Homo sapiens: one gene and its partners. Changing the gene in region 2 together with the main gene of any one other region gives a genetic interaction. Each region holds a gene or a part of one and is shown on either strand. Other genes may lie near its edges.

Region 1 (7,109 bases), on a different chromosome or scaffold from region 2:
TAACTGCCCCTGAGGAGCCCAGATGTTGGACTTAGTAGACAAAGAATTTACATGAGCTATTTAAAATATACTGAAACAACTAAAGAAAACTATGTCTAAAAAACTAAAGTATAAGAATGATGCCTCTCAAATAGAGAATATTAATAAATAAAGGGATAGAAATTATAAAAAATAAACAGAAATTTGTAATTGAAAAGTACAATAACTGAAATAAAAAATTCACCAGTGAGATTAAAAGCAGTTTAGAGCAAGCAGAAAAAACAACCAGTGAACTTGAAGACAGGGCAATTGAGACTGAGCCTCAGGAACAAGAAGAATAAAGAATGAAGAAAAATAAACAGAGCTTCTGAGACCTGTGGAACATCAAGTGAATCAACAAACACGTAATTTGGGAGTCCCAGAAGATGAGGAAAGGGGAAGAACAAACATTTGAAGAAATAATGGCCCAACATTTACCAAATATAACAAACATTAGAGAGGTTCAAAAAACTTCAAGTAGGATAAAGTCAAAGAGATCTGCATGTAGACACACCATATTCAAACCATTGAAAGTCAAAGAGAATCTTAAAAGCAAAACATAAGAAAATATACTCTTCTGAAGGTTGTCTACAAATCTATCTGAGGCACAGTGTGGCTTCAAGATTAGACTTTGGAGTCGGTTTTGTCATGTATGTCTTTGGAGGTAATGCGGTTGGGTACACATTTTATATAACTCATGGGGAGGGTTTTTCTCCTATTATAATTTTTGGGAATAACAATAAACTAAATTCTACAACCCAGGTGAGTGTTTAGACCCCGAAACTCATCTCCAAGCAGTAACAGATTCTAAGTGGAAATAAAAAATCCACTTTTTCAGGAAAAAAAAATAGTACCAGCAACTCATGGTGCATTAACGGCACTTATGTGGGAATATTCTTTTACGTACTTGAATAAAAGACTCAACTTACATATGGTGCCTGATTAAGAGTTTCTTAAGAGATATGAGGTAATCATCATTTTTCTTGATAGCTTATTCAAAGAAAATACTGTTACATAGTGATCTCAGTCTGAAGAAACAAAAAAAAATTAAATCTCTATAACAGACCTAAAGCATACACGTGACTAAATTTCCCCCCTCCTCCTCCCATATTAGCGTAAAGAAATCAAGAAGGACAAGAAGAAACACCAAGATAATCAGACTTTTTTTTTTTTGAGATGGAGTCTTGCTCTGTCGCCCAGGCTGCAGTACAGTGGCGCGATCTCAGCTCACTGCAACCTCTGCCTCCCGGGTTCAAGTGATTATCCTGCCTCAGCCTCCTGAGTAGCTGGGATTACAGGCACCCACCACCGTGCCTGGCTAATTTTTGTATTTTTAGTAGAGACGGGGTTTCATCATGTTGGCCAGGCTGGTCTTGAACTCCTGACCTCAGGCCATCTGTCTGCCTTGGCCTCCCAAAGCGCTAGGATTACAGGCATGAACTATCGCGCCTGGCCATGATAACTGAACTTTTTCTTTTAGGATTCAAAATAGGGTAAACAAAAGGTTACTGATTTCTCTAAATACTGTTCCTGTGCTTCTTATATTTACACAATGTCTTCATACTAAAGTACAAGAAACCACTTGAAAATTATTTTTAATAGAAACAAATCACTCTCAAATGGAAGAATTACAACAGAATACATACTAGAGGCATATCACTATGTTCTTCTTAAGAGCATTATTATGTCATAAAATTTCAAACTGCCAAGCGTGGTGGCTCACGCCTGTAATCCCAGCAATTTGGGAGGCCGAGGCGGGCGGATCACCTGAGGTCAGGAGTTCGAGACCAGCCTGACCAATATGGAGAAACCCTGTCTCTACTAAAAATACAAAATTAGCCGGGTGTGGTGACGCATGCCTGTAATCCCAGCTACTCGGGAGGCTGAGGCAGGAGAATCGCTTGAACCTGGGAGGAGGAGGTTTCGGTGAGCCGAGATTGCACCATTGCACTCCAGCCTGGGCAACAACAGCAAACCTCTGTCTCAAAAAAAAAAAAAAAAAAAAAAAAATTCAAACTGTGGGGTAACTGAATAGTTTTTAATCCCTGTTCCTCAGATAAAGATGCCACGAAAGAAAGAAAAGGTAAAAATAAGATGTCTTACTTAAGATTAGGAAAATAAGGCTGTAATAATTTCAAAAACTAAGTATAAATTAATGGATAAAAATATTGGGACTGATGCCCATGGAAGATAAAAGCTATACTGGGTAGTCTCTAGTCTTCATGACAGATATTCACAGATGGGGAAGACTACCCCATTTTCCAGGCTTCCCAAAACTAACCTGTGATAATTAGACATTCATTGTGATCCAGCACCTCAGTGAAGAGCCGTGAAATAATCAACTCAGGATTGATTAAAAAGCGGATTTCTTCTTGCACAAGTCCTGCACTGGTTACACCACCTCCAACAAAACGATTTGCAAAATCCACCTGTTGGGGAAATGTGACATATTAAATAATGGTCAAAAATACCTACACATATGATCAAGAAGCACATAGTCTCTAAGCTCTCATCTTTTCCTCTCCCATGAAAATCAATCCCCAAATAAGTAATCTTCCCAGGAAGGGCAGATTTTGGTTGCTTAAGCTCTTTCCACCTCACTGCAGTTAACATCTCTGCACATTTTTCTGGATCCCAGAACCAGAGAAGCAATCTGGAAAATGGAGCTTTTAGGCAAAATATTATGTATCATACAGACTCTTGTTTATAAACCTATTTGTGTCTCATGGGCCACAAATCAAGGGAGGTCTTTATCTGGGAAGGTTTCAAAGTCATTCTCCCCCATTCACTACTCAACTTCCCTTTATGTATTTCACGTGACTTTAATATAATTAAACTTTTCTTATGTAATATGGTAACCAAACACTTGCCCTAAAGAACTGAAAAGTTTAGTAATCAACTTTTTGGGTAACCTTTTCCAACTTTATTGTAAGAATAAAGAGATCGAATTTTTGTCCTTCTAAATTCAACCCCAAACCCCAAACTACATGAACATTACAAACTACTTTTTAAAAATATAACTAAGGAAAAAAGGAAGAAAGAAAACCCAGTATAGCAACAAAGATTCAATTAAAGTAATATTTCCAATTAGGTTGGAAACTCTTAAGCTTTATGTGGAGTAGTATGATGGGATCCCCAAATGCCTACTAATAAAGAAGAATTACACAATCCTCCAGAGAAAGCAAACTCAACTTGCTGGCATTATTTCCGTTTGTCCAGTGTGTCCAGCACTATGCCAGCCTCATGAAGCAGTATGTAAGAAATAGCAACCATCTTTTCCTTAGTGAGACTATCTGAGGAGTTAGATCACACACACACACACACACACACACACACACACACACACAACTTGTGTATATACATAGTCATACACACAAGTAAAATAGGATTTACTAAATACCATGAGGCTTATATTCTTTCAAACTATTTTAAAATATACGATTTCTTAAAACTTCAGTGTTCTCTAAAGCAACTGATACTAAATGACAATCTGAAGCCTATTTTACAAAATAGTAAAACAATAGTATGAATCGTTTGATATGTAAAAATATATGTCAAAAGACAGAAATTAATAGAAGGCGAAGCAGTCTTCTTTTACCACAGGAGAACTTAGAAAATACTAAAACATACCACTGAGGAGTTCTTCAATTGAGCTACCAGAGAGAATCATATATTTGGATTTGTGTTCTGGAGTACTAAAACCAATGCTAAAAAACCAGAGTAACTCTTTAGCTTAAATAGGAAAATAATTTTGGTGAAACCAGTCTGTTGATTAGAATTAGCTACCTACTACATATGAGGTCTATGGGCACTGGGTGATTCATGGCTTAAACTGTCCAATTCAACAAATATTTACTGAGTATTGTGCTGGGAATCACTGGATACAAAGATGAATAAGGTATGTATGGTTCCTGGCCTCACGGCATTTGTAATTTAGATGGCAGTCAGAATGAGCATAAGCAGAATGAGAAGATGATTATTGAAGAGCTTGTTACTATGTATTTGATACTTTCTAATAATACAATTAACTAAAATTGGAGCATGGGAGGAAGATAGGAAAGCTTTACAAGGGGATGTGGCAGCTGACATGCAGGCTGAGGGCATAGCTGCACAAGGACACAGGGCAAAAAAAAAAAACAAATGTAAATCACTATATGAGGGGAATGGTAAACAGATTCATTGTGCTTGCCTGCAGTGTAGAGTAGGTGGAGGCTTACAGTTGGTGATGAGGTGGTCTGAGGTCTAGGGAATTTTTACTCAATTTCCCTCTGAAGGTTCTGGGAAAGATTCAAGTAACACCTGGACCTATGTTTTAGGAAGATAATTCAGGCTAGAGTTTAAAGAATAAATGGAAAACTGTAAAACTAAAAGTAAAAATGCTGGTTAGGTGAGTACTAAATAGTTTATACAGGCACTACTAGGGCCTCAAACAGGAAAGTGGTAAAGTAAAGGAAAGAGAAGAAACTCGGTAAAGAAATAAAATGGACTGTACTTGAGAACTAAGAGACTGGCTGAGTGCCTAAAAGTATAATGATATTGTGACTACAAATGAGAAACAGACGAGGTTTAAGATTGGCCTAACTTAATTTTTACTGGAATAAGGTACATAACAAAAATAAAAAGATAAGCTCTATCCAACTTATGTACTACTTGATAATGATGATGAAATACATTCAATGTGTATGTTATTGTTTACTCTTTGAATAAAAGGCCCACATTTTTAACTTGAAAGGTGTGCACAGAAATAAAGACACTAAACTCAGTATGCCTCTAAATGCCAAAGTCTTTTAGAAAACCAAAGTTTTACTACTTAAAAAAGTTCTTAACAATAAAGACCCTCTACAACAGTTGAGAAACCTGTTCCAGTACATGAAAACAAGAATGTGAATGCATCCTTATTTTTAGCCAGTTATTTTCCAAGTCACTTTAAAGCTACTCATTCAGATTACTCAGCTTCTGAATTATAACTTGATGAAAAGACAGGAATGATAAAGCTCCTCAGAGAGGTTTTGTTGTTGTTGCCATTCAGCATCATGTAATTTATATGCTACACAAGGAGCTCTGTAGCATTGCAATACAATATTCCCCGATCTCCTGCGGAGACATGGCATGGGTAGGGAGAACAATTAATAGCAAGAAGCCCTTACGGTATTCTCTAATCTACCGAGGTCTCACATTTCCATCTATAATATATTCCGAGGAAGTGGGGAGGATCTCAACCTTAACTGTTGTTAAATAATTCCTTGTTGAATTGTATTGTAATGAAAGGTCAGCATTCCTGTGGTGCTAACTAGCAGTAACTTTGTTTAGTTCATGTGTATTAAGAATCTCTCAGTTTATCCAAGACTTTAAAGATGGAAAGAACTTCATCAAGAGGGGAATGTGGGGGAAAAAGTGATACTAATTTGAACCAATATTTAAGCATATTTTAAGATTATTTTTTAAACAGAAAAAAGGTATAGGAGTAAATGCAAATTTAAATATGTTTTGTTTTTGTTTATAAGCTCAAATAACCACTGGGAGAAGGTGATTTAGAATAAAACATAGTTTGTCTCTTTGAAGATTTTAATTACAAATATGTCCAAATAAAAGGCCATTTAAAAAAGAATCTCAGTTTCATTTAAATAATAACTAGACGTAAATCTTATAGTGAGCATTAAGTTATTCAAACAAATCAGTCCATTTTCAGGCAACTGCTTTCTTTAGATTCTGAACCAATATAAGCACCAAATAAGAATCTAAGAAGAAAAATAAACTATTATCAGTATAAATGAGATGGTATACAAGCTTCTTTCAAAGAAAACTCAGTTTACAATGCTCTTATAAATGGGATAAGAACACAAAACACTAACATTAGTGAATGTTAAAGAAGCATTATAAATCAAAAGATTAGGTTAGATATTACTATATTTTAAACACGGGGCTTTTGTTAACCCCCTTCTCCAAAAATACTTTTTAAAGGTAAAGGCGGTAACAGATTATTAACAAAGATTGAGAAGTGGACCAGAATTACCTGCTTTTAACAGGGAAAAGACATAGCAAACAGCTAGCTCACGTGCGTGAAACTGTTACATATGAGAGAGAGGCCTTTCTTATCAATCAGTTTTAGATGTCTGCCCCCTCAACCTAAACAAAGCTGTTGGTGGCAGAAAAACATCTCCATCTGGTCATCAACTGGGGCAGAGCAAGAAGAGCCTTTAAGGAAAAAGAATAAAAATGCCTGGTGACAGTCTGTCAAGACTATACCCTGGGAACTTCCTCCACTGTCAACCTACTATCAATGTCTGAACCAAGAGGCTGATGCTGTCCAGATCTTGGGATTTTCTGTCAAAGGCTTTTTAGAGAAGCACATATAAGAAACAGAGAGTATACACTGGCAAATCACAACATTACCAAGGCTGTCAAAGTGATCTGTTTGGTGTTTTTCTTCATTCTGCTATCATGCTTCTTTGCATTAAATCAGTTTAGGAGACAAATAAACAGTTTTTCAAATTTCTTTTGCTGTCAGAAGCTTGACAAGAAAAAGTCCTAACCATACACAGACACTACTAAGATTCACCTACCTGTAGCATGCCTTGGCCATTTTCTTCTATGGTACCTTCGTAAGTGACATGCAATCGTGTCAAGGGTTTTTCACATCTACAATATAAAAAGACATTCCCTTATTTATTATTTTAATGACAAGTTGTTCACTGCGGACAAAAGTGAAAATATAGGTAACTATTCAAAAACCGAAACCACCCCAAATCTCGAAAGTCAGAAACAGATGCCTACTGTTAACATTCTTGGTATTGATCCTCCTTTATTCAAACATGTAAATATACATATTTAAATTAAAATTGGATAACATAGTTTGAAACCTGATTTTCCTCTAAATAATATGAAAGTTTTTCTTCTTTAAAACAGTTGAAAAACATTACAAAATATTAAAAAAATTAAGATCTATGAAATTTTGTTATGGCTAGAGTTGGCAATCTGAGGAAAAATGTAGAAAAAATTTGGCAATAAATCATATATGATTCTCTTCTGGCTTCCATTTTCTATTTTCACTGTTTCATAACCGTGTGTGTGTGTGTGTGTGTGTGTGTCTT
Region 2 (7,512 bases):
TTTTTCAGGTCTGGGGTGGTCTCTTTCATTTAACTCATGCCCATCTTCTCTCTTCCATTTTATTTTCTGAGACAGGTTTCCCTCTGTTGCCCAGGCTGGAGTGCAGCGGTGTGCACTTAGCTCGCTGCAGCCTCGATCTCCTAAGCTCAAGTGATCCTCCTGCCTCAGCCTCCCAAGTGGCTGGGACTACAGGCATGTGCCACCATGCGCAACTATTTTTTTTTTTTTTTTTCTGTAGAGATGGATCTCTTTTTGTTGTCCAGGCTGGTCTCAAACTCCTGGGCTCAAACGATCCTCCCACCTCAACCTCCCAAAGTGCTGGGATTACAGGCGTGAACCACCGTGCCCGGCCTCCCTTTCATTTTACTCATCCACATCTCCCCCTCCCTGTCTCTGCTTCTCCTCTTTACGATGATTTGCTCAGCCAGGCACGGTAGCTCATGCCTGTAATCCCAGCACTTTGGGAGGTCGAGGCGGGAGAATCACTTGAGGTCAGGAGTTAGAGACCAGCCTGGCCAACATGGCGAAACCCCGTCTCTACTAAAAAATACAAAAATTAGCCAGGTGTGGTGGCACGCACCTGTAATTCCAGCTACTCGGGAGGCTGAGGCAGGAGAATCGCTTGAACCTGGGAAGTGGAGGTTGCAGTGAGCAGAGATCGCGCCATTGCACTCCATCCTGGGTGACAGAGCGAGACTCTGTCTCAAAAAAGAAAAAAAATGATTTGCTCCATACTTCAAGGTTATCATCCATCTCCTGTTTGGGGTGATCCCTTTTCTGTCTCTTCCACCACTCCAACACTCCACCATCATCTCTCCTCCCTCGGTCAGGAATGACCTCTTCCCTGATTACACTTACACTTTCCCACCCCAGCCCAGCCTCTTCCTTCTCTATCCACTCCCCACCATTTCCACCTCCTGCCAGTTAGATTCTTCCCCTCTCACTATTTCTCTGCCCCCCACAGTGTCTTTCCTTACCCCTCTTCTGCCTAAGAAAGTCTATTAACTCTCACCCCTCCCACATTTTCCTTCTCTTTAGGACAGTGTCATTTTCAGAATTCTGTGACAATAATGATTTCTATCACACCACTTATTTCTGTTCCCTCCATCTCATGATGGTCTTTCCCTCTTTCCTGCTCTCCACTGATTTCTTCCCACGCTCCCGTCTTGAGAACCATGATGATCCCCCCTCAGCATGGTAGTCTCTTCCACCCTGAAGGTACACCCCACCTCCCCACCAGGTCCCAGGCCACATCCTCTTACTTGAAGTAGCCTTCCCGACCAGGAGCACACATGTGTCCTTGTCACTGCTGCAGGTCTTCATTTGGCCATGGCACCTGCTCCCCGCCGCCGTACATATTTCGCAGTGTAGTGGGCACCCTGCAGTGTAGACAGAGGGCGAGGCTGTAGTCATGGGTGGTGTGGTCTTCGGACCACGACTTTGACTTAGGACTTTTGTGTCCTGAGAGAGGAGGGACCAGCAGCTCCCTGGTTTTTCATGGGCGGGATGTTGACCACTGCCCAAGGAACTGTCCAGAGTTGGACGAAGAAGCAGTGGTGATGCCAGCAAAGCTGCTTCCAGGGGCGGGAAGCGACTCCACCATGAAGCCTGTTTGCCTAATTACATGGCTGGGGATTTTGGATGCCAGGGTCCGCTGAGAAAGCTCAGGGGCAGGGAGGGGTCGTGATGGAGGTTTCCATGGACTTTTGTGAAACTTCAGGTCCAGCTGGTTCTTGAATGTGGGATTCTCCTCCTTGAAGGTGCCATGTAGGTCTTGTAGACAGCAGGAGCTCAGGCAGGGGGCCCTGAGGCTAGGGTCTGCATCCCAGGTCAAGGAGGGAGAGTGAGGACCAGGAGGGCAGAGGACTTGAACTTCTTGGTTCTGAGAGAGGGGACAGCTAGGGGCCCAGAAACCTGGGTCCTGGGGAAAGTGAGGCTTACTTGGACTCCTGTGTGCAGGGGAGGAGGGGGCTGGGGCCTGAACTTCTTAGTCTAAGGAGAAAGGAAATCTCTCTACCTCTTTTAAAAAAATATATCATATGATATTAATGTATTTTTTTTGAGATGGAGTTTTGCTCTGTCACCCAGGCTGGGGAGTGCAGTGGCACGATCTTGGCTCACTGCAACCTTTGCCTCCCAGTTTCAAGCAATCCTCTCACCTCAGCCTCCCAAGTAGCTAGGATTACAGGCGCCCACCACCAAGCTCAGCTAACTTTTTTTGTATTTTTAGTAAAGACGGGGTTTCACCATGTTGGCCAGGCTGGTCTTGAACTCCTGACCTCAAGTGATCCACCTGCCTCGGCCTCTTAAAGTGCTGGGGTTACAGGCATGAGCCACCGCACCTGGCCTTCTCCCTCTTTTTTTTTTTTTAATTATATTTTTAAAGATTTCCCTTTCCAGCCATGCTCTCATCTGATTTCCTAGAATTGAGATGTGTTTGGGATCCTTCCTGGAGGATGGAGGATTCAGAGCCCACCAAGCCCCTCTCTCAGGGATCCAATCACAGGAGCTTTTCTTCTCTGGGACCCCCAGGCTTTCTCTTCCTTTACCCTTGGCCTCTTCCATGAATCTGAATTTCCAGAATGCCTCCCCGTTCACCTTGAGGACTTGCTGAAGGCTCTTTCTCTCTCTATATCTCTCTCTCTCTCAATCTGGGACCTCTCTCTTCCTGAGGTCCCAGAGACAGTTCAGGTCCCTTGTCACTTACCAAGACCCAGGAGGGTGCAGAGCAACACAAAGGCCAGCAGAAAGGTCTCTGGTCTCCTGGAGAGCCTCATGGTGTGTGTATCAGCAGTACCTGGTCCCCAGCTTTTATAGGAAGCTGAGGAGGGGTGGGTCTGGACCCACATTCACCCTACGGGGAGAAATAGCTGAGGTCAGAACCCAGGGCAGTCCTCTGTGGCCTCCGGGTTGGGAAGGCAGAACCAGAATCCAAAAGTGACCTGGGCATCTTGTGCCCAGCCCCCCACCTCCATGGAGACCCCAGGAGTCTGGGCTTCCATCCCCCTCTTCTATTAGAACCCAGAAAGTCACCACCCTGTTTTCTCACCTTCCCACGGCCCATTGTTGTTTGTTTGTTTGCTTGAAGACCAAGACGGAGTTGGGCCTCTTGATTCCCAGTGGCTGCAAGAACTGGGATTCCCTCTCCTTCTCTCTCTTCCCCTCTCCTCCCAAGGAAGCACCCAGTGTGGGTAGGGCCCCACCTTGGAGCACCCAGCATGTCCAGGCTGGTCCTGCGGGTGCGGGGTGCCTTGTCTCCCTTCCCCTCTCTTCATGTGCTCGGCTCACACTCCTTGTGTGTTTGGGCTGTCTCCAGCTGCGACCCCACCCAGGGCTGCACCCTTGGGTCTCCAAGGCACCGAATGAACAGAGGGATGTCTGTCGGCAGTCATAGGCGGGCGTAGTAAAAGACAGATGCCCACAGTCCACATATTGGGAAACTGAGGCTTTTGTGGAAGAACTCCAGGATAGGGGTGTGTGTGTGTGTGTGTGGTGGGGGTTGGGCACATGCTTTGTGTTATATTTAGGACGCAGAACCCTTCTCTTTTGGCCTCAGGCATAAGGCTGAAAGAGATCTGCTAATTTTTTTCGCGCGTGCGCGCGCGCGTATGTATGTATATGTGCGTGTGTGTGTGTGTGGCAAGGGGACAGAGAGAAGAGTGCAGCCGCCTGAGCCATTTGAAGAGATCCTGTTGCGTAGAATCCAGGTTCCCTACGAAACTACGAAAATTCACTCAGATTTGCTGTCCTAGCCCAGCGCAGTCGCTCACGCCTGTAGTTCCAGCACTTTGAGAGGCCGAGGCAGGTGGATCGCTTGAGCTGAGGAGTTCGAGACCAGTCTGGGCAACATGGCAAGACCCGCCGCCCTCTCACCCCATGTCTCCACAAAAAATACAAAAATTAGCCGAATGTGGTGGCGCGTGCGTGTAATCCCAGCTACTTAGGAGGCTGAAGTGGGAGGATCCCTTGGCCCCAGGAGACAGGGGTTGCAGAAAGCCGAGATCGTGCCACTGCACTCCATCCTGGGTGAGAGAGCAAGACCCTGTCTCAACAAAAAATTTTTAAAAAATAAAATAAATAATAATACAGCAAAAAGATTTGCTTTCTCGGCTTCAGTGTGGGCGGTAACTCCATCGTGCAATGAGAAAGGCGAATTTCTTCCAGACACCAATCCCGGAGGTCGCTTCTGTTGCTAGGCTCCCAGAAAGCAGGGTTCGGACGTCATTGGGAGGCGAGGCTAGAGCGGGGTTGTGTGTGGCGGAGGGAGGCGGGGCTGGAGGAAACGCTCGTTGCTAAGGAACGCAGCGCTCTTCCCGCTCTGGAGAGGCGCGACTGGGCTTGCGCAGTGTCGACGCCGGCGCCGGCGCGCCGGGGTTTGAAAGGCCCGAGCCTCGCGCGCTTGCGCACTTTAGCCAGCGCAGGGCGCACCCCGCCCCCTCCCACTCTCCCTGCCCCTCGGACCCCATACTCTACCTCATCCTTCTGGCCAGGCGAAGCCCACGACGTTGACATGCCGGAGATCCGCCTCCGCCATGTCGTGTCCTGCAGCAGCCAGGACTCGGTGAGGGACCTGCATGGGGGAGGTTGGAAGACGTGAGGGAATTAATGAGGATAGCTCTTAAAAGAGCTTTTGGGGTTCTCTTGGAAGTCTAAGGAGAGTCATGGGGGGATTTCCAGGAGGCTAAAAGTGAATTGTGGAGAGATGTTGAATTAGGGACGTTCCGGCGTCTAGGGAACTTCCGGAGAGAAAAGGAGGAATAGGGAAGCTTTCTTGGAGAGCCCATAGGTGAACTTCCACGGGAAAGTGTTGTAGGGGAAACTCCAGGCAGAGTGTCGGGGGATTAACGGGAGAGCTTAAATCTGGGGGTCGTAGAGGCCTTGGGAGGACTCAAAGGAATCATCTGAGAGCTGGAGGCCTAGCTGTCATCTCTGTGCCCTAATTCTCCTCTCCCACTGTTGTTTCCAGACTCACTGTGCAGAAAATCTTCTCAAGGCAGACACTTACCGAAAATGGCGGGCAGCCAAGGCAGGCGAGAAGACCATCTCTGTGGTCCTACAGGTGATCCTGCCACCCCACCTCCTCCTCACTAGGAGTCTGGAGTCCGGGGTTCCAGATTCTGCTCCTGAGCCAACTGGCAGTGGGTTTAGTCACTTTCTTTGCTGGGCCTCAGCTTCCTTACTCGGAAAATGGGCAGCATAATCCCTGTGCCCCTCAGCAGAGAGGAAAGGAGACCCAAGGATTAAGTCCAGGATGACCACAGGAATCAGTGTGTGGTCCTGGGCAGGTGGCATCTACTTTCTGGGTTCCAGTTTCCTCAGCTGGAACAAAATGAATCATTGCCACGTACTCTGCCTCCTGCAGCCAGTGGGCTCAGGGCTGGAAGGTGTCCAGGAAGGTCGTCTAAGCCAATCAACTCCACTTTAAAGAAGGGGAAACTGGCCGGATGCCGTGGCTCATGCCTGTAAACCCAGCACTTTCAGAGCCTGAGATGGGAGGATTGCTTGAGCTCAGGAGTTCCAGACCAGCCTGGGCAACATATCAAGACCCTGTCTCTATTTTTATTAAAATAAATAATTTTTTTTAAAGAATAATAGCCAGGTATGGTGGTTCACACCTGTAATCCCATCACTTTGGGAGGCCGAAGCTGGAGTATTGCATGAGCCCAGGAGTTTGAGACCAGCCTGGGCAATACAGTAAGATGTCATCTCTACCAAAATTTTATAGATTAGCTGAGTATGGTGGTGTGCACCTGCAATCCCAGCTACTGGCGAGTCTGAGGTGAGAGAATTGCTTGAGCCCAGGAGATGGAGGCTGCAGTGAGCTGAGATTGTGCCACTGCACTCCAGCCTGGGCACCAGAGTGAGACCCCCAAAATATAAAAAATAAAATAATAATAATGAGAGCTGGCATTATTCAACGTTACCTGTCAGTCGCTGCTCTACACACCTCACTCACATGGATTAGCTCATTGAGTCCTCATAAAAAACCCCAAGAGGCAGGCTCTGTTATCCCCACTTTTACAGATGAGGAAACTGAGGCCCAAAGAAGTTATACAATTTGCCTGACAGTCAATCTTTTATTTATCTGTTGAGACAGAGTCTCACTCTGTTCCCAGGCTGTAGTGCAGTGGCATGATCTTGGCTTGGCTCACTGCAGCCTCTACCTCCTGGGCTCAAGCGATCCTCCCACCTCAGCCTCCTGAGTAGCTGGGACTGCAGGTGTGCACCACCATGCCTGGCTAGTTTTTTTTGTATTTTTTTAGAGATGGGGTTTCCACCATGTTGCCAGGCTGGTCTCAAACTCCTGGGCTCAAGCGTTCCTCCTGCTTCAGCCTCCCAAAGTGCTCGGATGACAGGCATGAACCATTGTTCCTGGCCTGGGGGCTGCTTTATGACTATAAGGAGCAGAACACTCTGTGGATAGTGCTAGGGTGACGGAAAAATTAACCTTTTGTGAATGGGCAGTCATTCAGCAAATATCCACTCCTCTCCCTCCCACTGGAGGGGGAGTATATTTCCCTGCTCCATTGATGAGTTTGACCATATGATTTACTTAATGGAATTTCAGCACATCTAACTTCAGCAAGGGCCTTAAATGCACTTGGCTTTTGTGCTCCCATAATATGCCATGAGAACATTTGCCAGGTTACTGCTAATCCCAGAAAACTGTGGAATCTCATGGAAGAGACCTGAATCCTCCCAAACTGCAGCCAAAGCAGCCATCCCACAAATTCTTATAAGAATGCTTGTTGGTATAAGTCTCAGTTTTCATGTTGGGAGGTCGAGGTGGGTGAATCGCTTGAACCCAGGAGTTTGAGACCAGCCTGGGTAACATGGGGAAACCCTATCTCTACGAAAAATTATAAAAAATAGCTGGGCTTGGTGGCGTATGCCTGTAGTCCCAGCTACCAGGGAGGCTGAGCGGGGAGGATTGATTGAGCCCATAAGGTTGAAGCTGCAGTGAACTGTGATGGTTTCACTGCACTCCGGCCTGTGAGACAGAGTGAGACTGTATCTCAAAAAAAAAAAAAAAAAAAAAAAGAAAAGATCTCAGTTTTAGGATGATTTGTTACACAGCATTATTACAGTGTAAGTTAATACAACTTGGTTGTTTTAAACCACTGAGATTAGGGACTCCTTTGTTACTGTAACATCATCTGGTCCACCCCAATTGATGTCAGTGTTTAGTGCCTGTCAACTAATGGCCTCCACTTCCCAGGTTCAAATGATTCTCATGCCTCAGCCTTCTGAGTAGTTGGAATTTACATGCCTGGCTAATTTTTGTATTTATAATAGAGACCGAGTTTTGCCATGTTGGCTAGGCTGGTCTTGAACTCCTGACCTCAGGAGTTCAAGGCAAATGAGCACCAAATGCTAATTTAAGTGATCCACCCACCTTGGCCTCCCAAAATGTTGGGATTACAGGCATGAGCCACTGCACCTGACCTCAGTCTTTTAAACTGTGATAGATACAGATTGCTGACAGTTTTAGTCTTGAGATCTAGATTCAAG
Region 3 (7,109 bases), on a different chromosome or scaffold from region 2:
CCGTCCTGAGCACATGCACACGCGGCCTGGTCCTGACAACACCTGGGCTCCCCCACAACTTTGCTCCGAAATTGGTGTGGGTGCCGGGAGCGGGGAGAGGCCAGGCAGCGGGAGCAGGCATTTCCAAGTCTGTGAGGGCAGGGGGCCTTCCCGGCCCTGGAAAGAGCAGGGATGCCTGGGTTTGCAGCCGTGGTTGGGCGGCTGCAGCTGCACCCAGGATGGCTGGGCTCCCGACCCTGCAACTCGGAAGGGGGCGGGGCTTCCACCTGTCTTGCACCTCAGAAGGGGGCGGGGCTTCTGCCCACTAGCGCCCTGGAGAGAGCAGCCCTAGCACCACCTTCCTCACCGCTCCAACTGGGCTGCCACTGCCATCAATAGCACATTTCAATTTGTACTAATCACATTTCAAGTTCTCCCTAGTTACTTGTAGCTAGTGGCCACCATATTGAGAAGTTCAGGTCTAGGCTTTGCTGATTGGATCTCTTTAGTATTACTTAGCATATTCTTTTTTTTCTTGTAAGTTGGTAACATATTCAGATTTTCTTTTCAATTTTTAAACAGAAGAATACTGTGAATATCAACATTGACACTGAACACATTTGATGAGTTCTACTTTAGAGAAATTTTTTTTGCAAATGAAACTGAGTCACTTTAAGGATTAAAAGCTTTTAATTTGTATTTTAGTGCCACACCAGAGGAATATAATACAGTTGTACAGAAGCCAAGACAAATTCTGTGTCAATTCATTGACCGGATACTTACAGATGTAAATGTTGGTAAGAAACCAATTATTTCTTATATAAACTTTATAAATTAGACTTTTCTTTTCCATGTATAAATTATAGTAGCATTTTCTCCATGTAGTTTTAGATATGGAGTATTTATGATAGTTACTATTTTCAAGCAAGTTATTTGTTAATCAGTATTGCTTATTGCTTGTTACAAAATTTGAATTAGGCTTTTAAAATAATTCTCTTTTCCTGTTTGTTATCTAGATTTTCTACTGCTTGCTATGAGTTCTTTAATATTGGATATTATATGTAAAAATATTTGTCCAGTACCAATCATGTGGACCCTATTTTGGTTAGCTGTTATGCCAGTGGTAGACTAATAGCAAATGCCACCCAAAAAAACCTCTTTAAGTAAGTTACTCTTTAAGTAGGTTCATGCCTGTGCCTATAGGAGATTATAGGATTATGTGAGTTACTGAATCAATTATTGCCTGTTTGTGCCAATCTGCTAGACAGAATATTACCAACCTGGCAAGATGGTGTCACATTTGTCATATCTGTTGAAATTACATGGGAGGGATAATATAAAATGGCATTAGGCTCAGGGTTTATAATTTGGATTCCAAATTTGGCGCAGATTTTATGACTTAGACTAGCCATTAATCCTTTCTTTTTCAATCAGTAAAATGATGGGTTGCTGAAAAATAACAAAGGACTACTGAATACTTACAAGATGTGTTTTTGTATCGTATTCATATTCCCTCCGTTTAGACTACTTGCCCTTCCCCTCTCTGACCAACTCCTCATCTAGGAATCATTTCCTTCACAGTGTCCTCCCAGATACCTGTTTCTCCTTATTCTGGATTAGTGCTGTTACCATATTGTATTATAATTATTAGTTGGTTTGTTTGGCGCCCCACTGGATTGTGAGAACTTTTTTTTAATCCTTAGATTTTAGCATTGCCTGGCATATTATTCCTGAAGTACATGTTTGATAAATAGATGTATGGTAGAGGAATGCATGTGATTTTTAAACATTTAAAATTAGATAAGACTGTAGTGTTGGCTGGGCACGGTGGCTCACGCCTGTAATCCCAACACTTTGGGAGGCCGAGGTGGGTGGATCACCTGAGGTCAGGAGTTTGAGACCAGCCTGGCCAACATGACGAAACCCTGTCTCTACTAAAAATACCAAAATTAGCTGGGTGTGGTGGCACACACCTGTAGTCCTAGCTACTCAGGAGGCTGAGGCAGAAGAATCACTTGTACCCCGGAGGCACAGGTTGCAGTGAGCCAAGATCACACCACTACACTCCAGCCTGGGCAACAGAGTGAGACTGTGTCTCAAAAAAAAAAAAGACTGTAGTGTTTAGCCCCATCAATTTAGCTTGAATGTTGTTGAGTGCTGTGCTGGATATAATTCTGGTCACCAAAGTCTGGTTCCCCACCCCCACCCCACTTTTTGTTTTTTTTTTTTTAATTTTAAGAGACAGAGTCTTGCTTTGTTCCAGGCTGGAGTGCAATAGTGTGATCGTAGCTCACTACTGCCTTGAACTTCTGGGCTCAAGGGAATCCTCCAGCCTCAGCCCCCTGAGTAGCTGGGACTATAGGCACACTACCACTCCCAGCTAATTTTAAGAAAAATTTTTTTTGTAGAGACGGGATCTTGACATCTTATCCAGGCTGGTCTTGAGTTCCTGGGCTCAGGTGATCCGCCCACTTCAGCCTCCCAAAGTACAGGGGTTACAGGAGTGAGGCACCTTGCCTGGCCCACAGTCTGGTTTCTTAACAAAAGGACCATTGTTTAATTTGTCATGACTCTTTAAAATGAATCTTATTGTTTTAGTTGCTGTAGAACTTGTAAAGAAAACTGACTCTCAGCCAACCTCCGTGATGTTGCTTGATTTCATCCAGCATATCATGAAATCCTCCCCACTTATGTTTGTAAATGTGAGTGGAAGCCATGAGGCCAAAGGCAGTTGTATTGGTAAGTGCTGTTATTCATGCATTCACTTGCCATCTGTTCTATAAAATCCTCCTTTTACTGCTCTTCTGAAATATTACATGTACAGGATTATACTTTTTTGGGTCAGCTTTGCTATAAATTGAAGGAGCAAAATGGTAATGGTTATTTTTCCTTCACATATCCTTATTGTTTTCTTTTTAGTATTGTATACTAGGTACTTAGAAATAATCAAATTTGTTTATTTGCCATTGAACACTTTGGCATGGTTTTCTTTTTTCTGTTTTTGGTAATCTCTTTCTTCTAGATCAGAGCTTGGCAAGCTGTAGTCCACAGGGTGGCTGCCTGTTTTTGTGAACAAAGTTTTGGTGTTTTGTTTTGTTTCCTTTTTTTTTTTTTTTTTTTTTTTTTAAATAAGACAGGGTCTCGCTATGTTGCCCAGGCTGGTCTTGAACTGGTAGACTCAAGGGATCCTCCTGCCTCAGCCTCCTGCATACCTGGGACCATAGGCACATGCTACTGTGCCTGGCTTCAGTTTTTGTAAACAAAGTTTTATTAGAACACAGCCATGCTCATTCTTTTACTTATTGTCTGTGACTACTACAAAGGCAACTTGGGCACTCAAGCCAAAAATATTACTATCTGGTCCTTTAAAAAAAGTTTGCTGACCGCTATTCTATATATTGAAGCTTTTCTCTAGGCTTATTCTTTATTGCACCTACTACTTTTGTCCCTTCATTGGTGTCTTCATAAAGAGATGCAAAATAAACATTTTTTTTGTATAATGGATAAAGTATTTTAAAATTTTTTGTTCAAACTTTAACTCAACTTTGATAGCATGTCCTCCAAGAAGTTTTTTTCTGAGCACTACTTCTAACTGCTTAGAACTGGCTTGGTTATTCCTTTATTCTCTCTTAGTACTAAGTGTTCTGCATTTCATCTATCATAGAGGCTATTAAACTGTGCTCTAATCATTGGTTTGTCTATATTCTTTCCTACAGTAGTTTTTAAACTACAGGTCATAACCCACTAGTGGGTTATGAAATTAGGCAATTATCAGCATTTAAAACAAGATGAAATAAACTAGAAAATATCATAGGCTGGGCACGATGTCTCACGCCTGTAATCCCAGCACTTTGGGAGTTCGAGACCAGCCTAGGCAACATGGCAAAATCCTGTCTCTACCAAAACCAAACCAAACCAAACCAAAACAAAACAGAAAAACATTAGCTGAACATGGTGGCACATGCCTGTGGTACAAGCTACTTGGAAGGCTGAGGCACACTAATTGCTTTAGCCTGGGAGGCAGAGATTGCAGTGAGCTAAGACCATGCCGTTGCACTCCAGCCTGGGTAACAGAGTGAGAACCTGTCTCAAGAAAAAAAAAAAGAAAATATTATAGTACATTGTATGTAATAAGAGTAAGTACTATTTAATGAACCTTTTGTTTTAAATATTTAAATAAAATGCATGTATATGTACTGGGTCATGATATAAAATGTTATTTCTTTGTTGCAGTCAAAAAGCTCAAGAAACTGTACTGTGAGATTCATGAGGACAGGACTATGACTGATTTATTCTTGTGTACCTGAGACAGAGTCACCACTCAAATTTTAGTTGAAAGAATGACAATAGCTACCCTTTATTGAACATTTATTTTACTTTGGAACTGTGCTGAGTATTTCATGTGCATTTTCTTATTTGGTCCTCACAGTAACCCATAACATAGATAGCATTATTCTCCTTATACATGAAATTACAGAGGTTCAGAGAAATGAAAAGTTTATACAACTAGTAAGTGGAAAGCTAGGACCTTGCCTGTCTGACTCCAAAGTTGTTACAGGCATACCTCAGAAATATTGTGGGTTCAGTTCCAGACCACTACAATAAAGTGAATATTGCAATAAAGTAAGTCACATGAATTTTTTGGTTTCCCAGTGCATATAAAAGTTATGTTTACGTTGTACCTTAAGTGTGGAATAGCATTATGTCTAAAAAACAATGTATGTACCCTAATTAAAAATACTTTATTACTAAAAAATGCTAACGATTATATCATCCTTCAACAAGTTGTAATATTTGTGCTGGTGGAGTGTCTTGCCTTGATGTTGAGGGCCTTTCTCTGGATTAGGCTTTGGCTTAAGGGAATGTTGTGGCTGGTTTGATCTTCTTTTTTTCCTACTGGAAATTTCCTCATCTTTTAACGATTTGATCTTCTATTCAGAGTACAAAAACTTTCTCCATACCAGCAATAAGGCTGTTTCACTTTCTCATCAATGGTGCGTTCAGTGGAGTAGTACTTTTAATTTCCTCCAAAAACTTTTTCTTTGTTTTAACAAGTTGGTTGTTTGGTGAAAGAGGCCTAGCTTTCAACTTGTCTTGGCTTTCAACATGCCTTCCTCAGTAGGCTTAATCATTTCTAGCTTTTGATTTGAAGTGAGAGATGTGTGACTCTTCCTTTCATTTGAACACATAGAGGCCATTGTAAGGGTTATTAATTAACCTAATTTCAATACTGTGTCTCAGGGAATAGGGAGACACAAGGAGAGGGAGAGAGATGGGGAACTGCTGGTCGGTGGGTCAGAACACATACATTTATCCATTAAGTTTGCCACCTTATATCGGTGTGGTTCATGACAGCTCCAAACAATTACAATAGTAACATCAAACGTCACTGATCACAGATCACCATAACAGATACGATAATAATGAAAATGTTTGAAATATTTTGAGAATTACCAAAATGTGATACAGAGACATGAAGTGACCACATGCTATTGGAAAAATGGCACTGATACACTTGCTTGATGCAGAGTTACCACAACCTTCAATTTGTGACAAATGCAGTATCTGCAACGTGCAATAAAACTGGGTATGCCTGTGTTCTAAACTATTATGTTTCCATTGTGAAGAGAATGTTTTACACTCTTGTTAGTGAAGTTTATTCTTTAAAAGTCAATCGTCAAGGATTTAGCAAATGAATTAGCACTTCGGATATACTTGTTTATTTAATATCTTTTTTGTTTATTTCAAAGAATTCAGTAATTGGATCATAACGAGACTTCTGCGGATTGCAGCAACTCCCTCCTGTCATTTGTTACACAAGAAAATCTGTGAAGTCATCTGTTCATTATTATTTCTTTTTAAAAGCAAGAGTCCTGCTATTTTTGGGGTACTCACAAAAGAATTATTACAACTTTTTGAAGACTTGGTTTACCTCCATAGAAGAAATGTGATGGGTCATGCTGTGGAATGGCCAGTGGTCATGAGCCGATTTTTAAGTCAATTAGATGAACACATGGGATATTTACAATCAGCTCCTTTGCAGTTGATGAGTATGCAAAATTTAGAATTTATTGAAGTCACTTTATTAATGGTTCTTACTCGTATTATTGCAATTGTGTTTTTTAGAAGGCAAGAACTCTTACTTTGGCAGATAGGTTGTGTTCTGCTAGAGTATGGTAGTCCAAAAATTAAATCCCTAGCAATTAGCTTTTTAACAGAACTTTTTCAGCTTGGAGGACTACCAGCACAACCAGCTAGCACTTTTTTCAGCTCATTTTTGGAATTATTAAAACACCTTGTAGAAATGGATACTGACCAATTGAAACTCTATGAAGAGCCATTATCAAAGCTGATAAAGACACTATTTCCCTTTGAAGCAGAAGCTTATAGAAATATTGAACCTGTCTATTTAAATATGCTGCTGGAAAAACTCTGTGTCATGTTTGAAGACGGTGTGCTCATGCGGCTTAAGTCTGATTTGCTAAAAGCAGCTTTGTGCCATTTACTGCAGTATTTCCTTAAATTTGTGCCAGCTGGGTATGAATCTGCTTTACAAGTCAGGAAGGTCTATGTGAGAAATATTTGTAAAGCTCTTTTGGATGTGCTTGGAATTGAGGTAGATGCAGAGGTAAGTAATTTTTCAGGTTACTAGTTAAGTATGTATTTTGTTCATCATTTAATTGTATACATATGTGCAAAATGTAATAATAAGAAAATAGAATATCTTTAATAGTAATTTATATTTGGAACATAATGATTTTCATAGTGTAGTCTGGCTCACTATTATGGACTTTTACTTTGATTTCAGAAGGATTTGTTCATTAAGTTGGTAATGAACTGCCAATGGAGTAGAATGTTTCTAAGTAGAATCTGTGAAGTGTAAATGTATTTGTTGCATTATTAATTAAAAGGGGGCAGTTACCAACTTAATTGCAGAAGCTTTGGTCAATCAGATTATGTGTCTGACAAGTTATAATCAATCACTTTTAGAAAACCTATGAATGATTAATCATGCCAAATTATGCGCTTTTTTCTATTTGGACTGTGGGAGTCAGGTAATACAATAAAATCATCAGAGATGCAGTAACTTGATTAAATATTTTAGTTTATTAATCTTGCTGGATTAAAGT

Evidence for each region.
Region 1: changes in XRCC1 (region 2) and PARG together harm fitness more than expected from each alone (negative genetic interaction), as found in Homo sapiens cells (one study listed by BioGRID).
Region 3: changes in XRCC1 (region 2) and ATR are lethal when combined (synthetic lethality), as found in Homo sapiens cells (one study listed by BioGRID).

The regions. Positions count from the first base shown.
Region 1 is NC_000010.11:49,855,007-49,862,115, forward strand, and holds part of PARG (poly(ADP-ribose) glycohydrolase), read right to left. Parts: intron 6,658-7,109; coding exon 6,582-6,657; intron 2,448-6,581; coding exon 2,300-2,447; intron 1-2,299. UniProt on the Homo sapiens protein: Poly(ADP-ribose) glycohydrolase that degrades poly(ADP-ribose) by hydrolyzing the ribose-ribose bonds present in poly(ADP-ribose). PARG acts both as an endo- and exoglycosidase, releasing poly(ADP-ribose) of different length as well as ADP-ribose monomers.
Region 2 is NC_000019.10:43,572,457-43,579,968, reverse strand, and holds the start of XRCC1 (DNA repair protein XRCC1), read left to right. Parts: upstream 1-4,441; 5' UTR 4,442-4,510; coding exon 4,511-4,561; intron 4,562-4,966; coding exon 4,967-5,059; intron 5,060-7,512. Other genes in the region: PINLYP (phospholipase A2 inhibitor and Ly6/PLAUR domain-containing protein), read right to left, coding at 1,263-1,379, 2,708-2,849. UniProt on the Homo sapiens protein: Scaffold protein involved in DNA single-strand break repair by mediating the assembly of DNA break repair protein complexes. Negatively regulates ADP-ribosyltransferase activity of PARP1 during base-excision repair in order to prevent excessive PARP1 activity.
Region 3 is NC_000003.12:142,561,730-142,568,838, reverse strand, and holds part of ATR (serine/threonine-protein kinase ATR), read left to right. Parts: intron 1-684; coding exon 685-776; intron 777-2,577; coding exon 2,578-2,718; intron 2,719-5,729; coding exon 5,730-6,607; intron 6,608-7,109. UniProt on the Homo sapiens protein: Serine/threonine protein kinase which activates checkpoint signaling upon genotoxic stresses such as ionizing radiation (IR), ultraviolet light (UV), or DNA replication stalling, thereby acting as a DNA damage sensor.